Regions from separate parts of the Homo sapiens genome. Here region 2 is linked to region 1. The links come from fine-mapping of genetic effects on gene expression. A gene starts in region 1. The other region holds a variant in brackets. All regions are shown on one strand. Distances are from middle to middle.

Region 1 (2,762 bases):
TGCTTCCCTGGGGCAGCCCCTGAGTCGCCTCACAACGCTGGGGCAAGAGTCAGAGCCCAGGGTTTGCCCTTCCTAAGCAGAGGTGGGAGCTGGGGGCAGGGGGCAGGGAGCGCCTCTCCCAAGGTCTCTGCCCCCAACCTCTCTGCGCCAGGTGCAGAGGCCTCAGCAGACCCTGCCAGGGGCCCAACAGGCTGGTGTAGGGGGTCAGGGCCCTCCATGCCGGGGACGGAGGTGCACCGTGACCACAGTTGGTGGGGGCCTGACCGCTGGGCCGGGGCTCTGGCAGAGCCCCTGAGATCCTGTGGGGTCCTGACCACTGCACTGGGTTTTTCAAGATGACCAGGAATTCGTGAGGCTGGGTGGTGACTCCGTGGGGGGGCGGAGACATGGCCATCCAGAGGTCGGGGACCAAGGACACCGTGAGCAGAATAGCCAGTCTCTCCTCACTCTGCCCCCAGGCAAGGAGAGCACAGGAAGGGGTTGCAGGAACTCATGGTCCAGTTGCCAGAGAGCCCCCCACAACCCCTGCAGACCCAGAGCTGGCTCAGCGGAGGTGCCAGCCCAGCCTTAGGTGCGAGGCTTGGCCTCCTTTCCAGTTAGGGCAGGCCGGCCAGGCCCGGCCACGTCTGCATACACAGTCCCTGGCTGTAGTCCTGGCCCTGGAGGGGTGTCCTGGTTGCTGGGTGATCTATGCAGGGACGGGAATGAGGGGCAGGGGTCTTGGGGTGTGTCCCGCCTTCCCCTCCCCCGTCGGTGCCACCTACTCAGTGCACCGGGTGGGCTTTTTGGATTCCCTTTGTCCAGCCCTGACCTCCCCACAGCCATCGGGAGGGCCCCCCAGAGCGCATCTGGAGGAGGAGGGGGCGCAATGAGGCAGGGAAGGTCGGCGCCCTGCAGCTGCCTCCGCTGCGTGTGGAGCGAAGGGAGTTCTCACCTTGCGAAGTCTCATCTGTCAGGCTTTCCTCCGGGTGGGCGCTGTCCGTCCTGAAAGGAACAGAAGCCGCGGGGTGAAGGAAAGTCTCCGTGCTGGTCCCCACCCCATCGGTATGGGCAGGTACCCTGACTGCGCGGGTCCCCGCCGCGGGTCCAGGGCGGCCAGCGTTGGGGTGCAAGGCCCGGGGTCCTGCGCGTGCCAGACCGCTGCGCCCCCATCGTAAAGCACGAAGTCCCCGACTGGTGTGGCCACGGGCGGTCGCGGAGCTGCACGACGCGAAACGAAGCCGGCCACAGCCCGTGAGTTTCGGCTCGGAAAAGCCGCAGGGGTCCAAGGTGCGCTCACTAGGCGGGAAGCCGGGAGAGCGGCGGCCCTGCCCGCACCCCGCGCCCCTGCCCGCACCCCAGCCCCACCGGCACTCCGGCCGCCTCGCTGCGTCCCCCTCCTCCCCCCCACCCCCGATCCCCCGCACCCGTAGGCCGCGGCCCGGCGAGGGTTAAGGGGGGCGGGGCGAGGGGCGGCCCCGCCTCCGCCGCCGCGCCGGGTCCGAGCGCGCACGGGGCGCGGGGGCGGGTCGGAGCGGGCGGCGGCGGAGGGCGCGGCGCGCCGGGGATCGCGGGGAGCGGGCAGCGGGGACGGCGGCGGCGCGGCCCGCGTGACCCAGCGCCGCGCCCCGTGGCCCCGCCGCAGGATGCGCGCCCCGCCGCTGCTGCTGCTGCTGGCCGCCTGCGCGCCGCCGCCCTGCGCCGCGGCCGCCCCGACGCCGCCGGGCTGGGAGCCGACCCCCGACGCGCCCTGGTGCCCCTACAAGGTGCTGCCCGAGGGCCCCGAGGCGGGCGGCGGGCGCCTGTGCTTCCGCAGCCCCGCGCGCGGCTTCCGCTGCCAGGCTCCGGGCTGCGTGCTGCACGCCCCGGCCGGCCGCTCCCTGCGCGCCAGCGTCCTGCGCAACCGCAGCGTCCTCCTGCAGTGGCGCCTGGCCCCGGCCGCCGCGCGCCGCGTGCGCGCCTTCGCGCTCAACTGCTCGTGGCGCGGCGCCTACACGCGCTTCCCGTGCGAGCGCGTGCTCCTCGGGGCCTCCTGCCGCGACTACCTGCTGCCCGACGTGCACGACAGCGTCCTCTACCGCCTGTGCCTGCAGCCGCTGCCGCTGCGCGCTGGGCCCGCCGCCGCCGCGCCAGAGACCCCCGAGCCGGCCGAGTGCGTGGAGTTCACCGCCGAGCCGGCCGGCATGCAGGACATCGTGGTGGCCATGACGGCGGTGGGCGGCTCCATCTGCGTCATGCTGGTGGTCATCTGCCTGCTGGTGGCCTACATCACCGAGAACCTCATGCGCCCGGCCCTCGCGCGCCCCGGCCTGCGCAGACACCCCTGAAGCGCGAGGCCGCCCGCCCATCTTTGCGCCACCTGCCTGAGGGCGCCTGAGCTCCCAGGTCCTCCGCCCGCTCTCCTCTCCTCATTCCTGCTGCCTCCTTAAGATCCCCGCGGAGGAGGACCTGCCGGCGACGGCTCCGGCACTTTGGCATCATCACACGCCCTTTCCAGCCGGGCGTCAGACTCCCAGACTCTGGCCCCGGATTGGCCCCTGGGCTTGCGCTGCTGTGCCAGCCGCATCCAGGGCTCTCCCCGCTCTCCGCAGGCCTTTATAGAGGCGGCCAGGGCATGGAGCCCCTTCCAGCAAGAGCCATGGGCACTCCGGCTCACCCCGCACCTCCATCCTGTGCCGAATTGTCCCAGACAGACCGTCGCCATTGCTCGGTCACTGTGCTTTGCAGGCCTGGGGCGCAGCTCTCCAAGCCTGTCCTGCCCCGCCCCACCCCACTGGGCTTAG
Region 2 (2,762 bases), 160 kb before region 1:
TAGGTGGAAGCTTGCCAGAGCCGGCGCTGCCTAACAAGGATCACGACTATCAAATGCAAGGGGGGCTTTTTGGTGAAAAGTAGTCTTAGAAAGCATGTTGTCTTACCCAGTGAGATGGGAGAGCCTGTAGCGCCTCTGACGTGGTGGCAGCCGTGGAGAAACAGGCTACTCCCACGTTTTCTGTCTACAGAGTCGCTGCCTGAGCCAGGAGGCTACGAGCGCTGGTGGCTGCCTTCATCCCGCAGGCACCACGTCACCACTCAGCCTTTCTCAGATGCCTCGTTGCCTCGTTGTCAGTGGGGGTCGTTGTCCTGTACCTCCAGGCCACCCCAGCGCAGTGACTGCGTGAACAGAATTGCTTTGGGGTTTTATTTTTTTTTCCTGTGGGTTCTTTGGCATAATGCACCATTTCTGTTGCATTCTGAACCTGATGACAGCAGCCCTGGGTCAGAGGTCGCCTCCATAGTGAGTGACAGGCGCCTTCAGGGTGAGGTGGGGGAGGAGGTAGCCAAATACGCCCAAGCATAGCCTGTCCTTGGGAAGGAAACATTAAATCCCAACACCCACTTCGAGAAACATTGTTTTCCGCAATAATCTTTTCAGTTCGTAAGTAAGTAAAATTCTTTTGTAATGTACTTCGTTTTCTTCTTCTTTTTTTTTTTTTTTTTGAGATGGAGTCTTGCTCTGTCGCCCAGGCTGGAGTGCAGTGGTGTGATCTAGGCTCACTGCAAGCTCTGCCTCCCGAGTTCAAGTGATTCTCCTGCCTCAGCCTCCTGAGTAGCTGGGATTACAGGCATATGCCACCACGCCTGTCTAATTTTTGTATTTTTAGTAGAGATGGGATTTCACCATGTTGGCCAGGCTGGTCTCGAACACCTGACTTGAGGTGATCCGCCCACCTCAGCCTCCCAAAGTGCTGGGATTACAGGCGTGAGCCACAACGCCCGGCTAATTTTTTGTATTTTTGTGTAGAGACAGGGTTTCACCGTGTTAGCCAGGATGGTCTCAATCTCCTGCCTCGTGATCCGCCTGCCTTGGCCTCCCAAAGTGCTGGGATTACAGGCGTGAGTCACTGCACCCGGCCTGTACTTACCAATTTTTAAAAGGCTGAGGTAAACAAGTCCGTGACCACTGATGGCCACGCCTGTGTCACCTGTGGAGCAGCCCTCAGGGCACCACGGCTCTCCTGGGGTTGTCTGGCCCTGCGAGGCAGCGGAAGGCCGTTCTTCTGCATTGGGACTTGAGGATTTTGTTGGGCCGTTGCCTGGCCAGCTGTGTGCAAGTTTTCTGAGTTTGTGAAGGGACTGGGAGGCTCCCGGGCACCTAGGACGAGGGCAGCCTCAGTGCTGGACCCTGAGGAGCACAGCGGTCCTGACAGCATTCTCCCCAGGACGCGTGCGGCTGCCACAGCCCCTGGCTGGGTGATTTAACTGTGACCTGGCCATGTTTAAATCACTAGGAAAGTTGTTGAGCCGTTCATCTGGCGTCTTTTATTCATTCATTCATTCATTCATTCATTCATTCATT[T/CATTT]TGAGACAGAGTTTCACTTTTTTCAGCCAGGCTGGAGTACAGTGGCTCGATCTCGGCTCACTGCAACCACCACCTCCTGGGTTCAAGCAGTTCTCTTGCCTCAGCCTCCTGAGTAGCTCGGACTGCAGGCACACGCCACCAGGCCTGGCTAATTTTTCTTTTTTTAGTAAGGATGGGGGTTTCACCATGTTGGCCAGGCTGGTCTCAAACTCCTGACCTCACGTGATCCACCCACCTCAGCCTCCTGAAGTGCTGAGATTACAAGTGTGAGCCACTGCGCCCGGCCTACGTCTTTTTTATTGACATGAGTTCAGAGTGAACATTTGTGCTAGAATTTTAATCTAGACGATTTAGAGATGAGATGTTGTCTCAGGTTTTGAGTCCCAAATGCAGATCTAGAGAGGGGTCCTGGAGACACTGAGGAATTCTGATCCCAGGCTGGCCCTGGCCCTGGCATTTTCCTTGTTTGGGCTGAAGCTCTCCCCGGCTTGGGTCATGATCTGAGCGGCGCGTGGGCATGCGTGCTCCTCACAGGTGCCGCTCCAGTGCAGCCATGGACCTGGGCAGAACCTTCCAAGGGCTATTGTGTGGCTGCTGGGCAGATGGAGTTGGCATCTTTCAAATTGCATGTATGCCTTACCGTGTAACCTCCTCTGTATCTGTGTCTGTCACTGCATGTCTGGTTTCAGGCCCTGGTGGCTCTGACACTGCCCTCTCCCCACAGGAGGACACGCTCTCTTCATGGGCCATGCCCGGTGACCACTTTTGGACCAAAGGCCTGTGTGCTGCAGAACCCCCAGACCATCATGTGAGTGCTGGGGCCCCAGGACGGGGGGTTCTTGGAAGGGAGAGAACCCCTAGACCATCATGTGAGTGCCGGGGGCCATGGGATGGGGGAGTCCTCGGGATGTGTGTGGAGTTGTGGGATCGCTGTGTTGAGGAAGATTCTAGCACTTCATGTGAGAAGTACATGTTTAGGTCATTTAAACAAAAAGCCACATGGGCGTCCTCCCTGAACCCCCTGAGTGCAGGCATCCGAGCGGGGGCTCCCCAGCTGTGGCTTTTCCAGTGGCTTTGAGAAAGTGGACGGCAGGCGAGCCGGGGCCTGGAGACCGGGTCACAGCCCGTGGGTGTGGCGGCTTCCACATGAGATCCTCAGGGCTGCCTTTTTGTTTCTTTAAGAGTGAGTGAGAATTCTGGGGTGGGTTGCGTTTGCTATTTGATGGTTCAGTTTG

What was found. PIP is the estimated chance that this variant, and not a neighbour inherited with it, causes the effect.
Region 2: its variant is fine-mapped to the expression of FNDC10 in whole blood (INTERVAL, PIP above 0.99).

The regions. Positions count from the first base shown.
Region 1 is chr1:1,598,879-1,601,640 of GRCh38, reverse strand. It overlaps FNDC10 (fibronectin type III domain containing 10), which reads left to right and starts at 1,506. Exons shown (of 1, transcript NM_001242659.2): 1 at 1,506-2,762. The coding sequence starts at 1,626. The coding sequence ends at 2,306. It overlaps LOC105378586 (a long non-coding RNA gene), which reads right to left and starts at 2,208. Exons shown (of 3, transcript NR_147951.1): 1 at 2,025-2,208; 2 at 935-984. RefSeq lists silencers at 1-16, 1,430-1,479, 1,780-1,899 and enhancers at 373-1,032, 1,033-1,692, 1,693-2,352, 2,353-2,762.
Region 2 is chr1:1,761,525-1,764,286 of GRCh38, reverse strand. It overlaps NADK (NAD kinase), which reads left to right. Exons shown (of 12, transcript NM_023018.5): 3 at 2,252-2,335. Among named protein-coding and RNA genes, the nearest start is that of NADK, 16 kb to the left of the region's middle. The variant T/CATTT (reference allele first, on the strand shown) is at 1,528.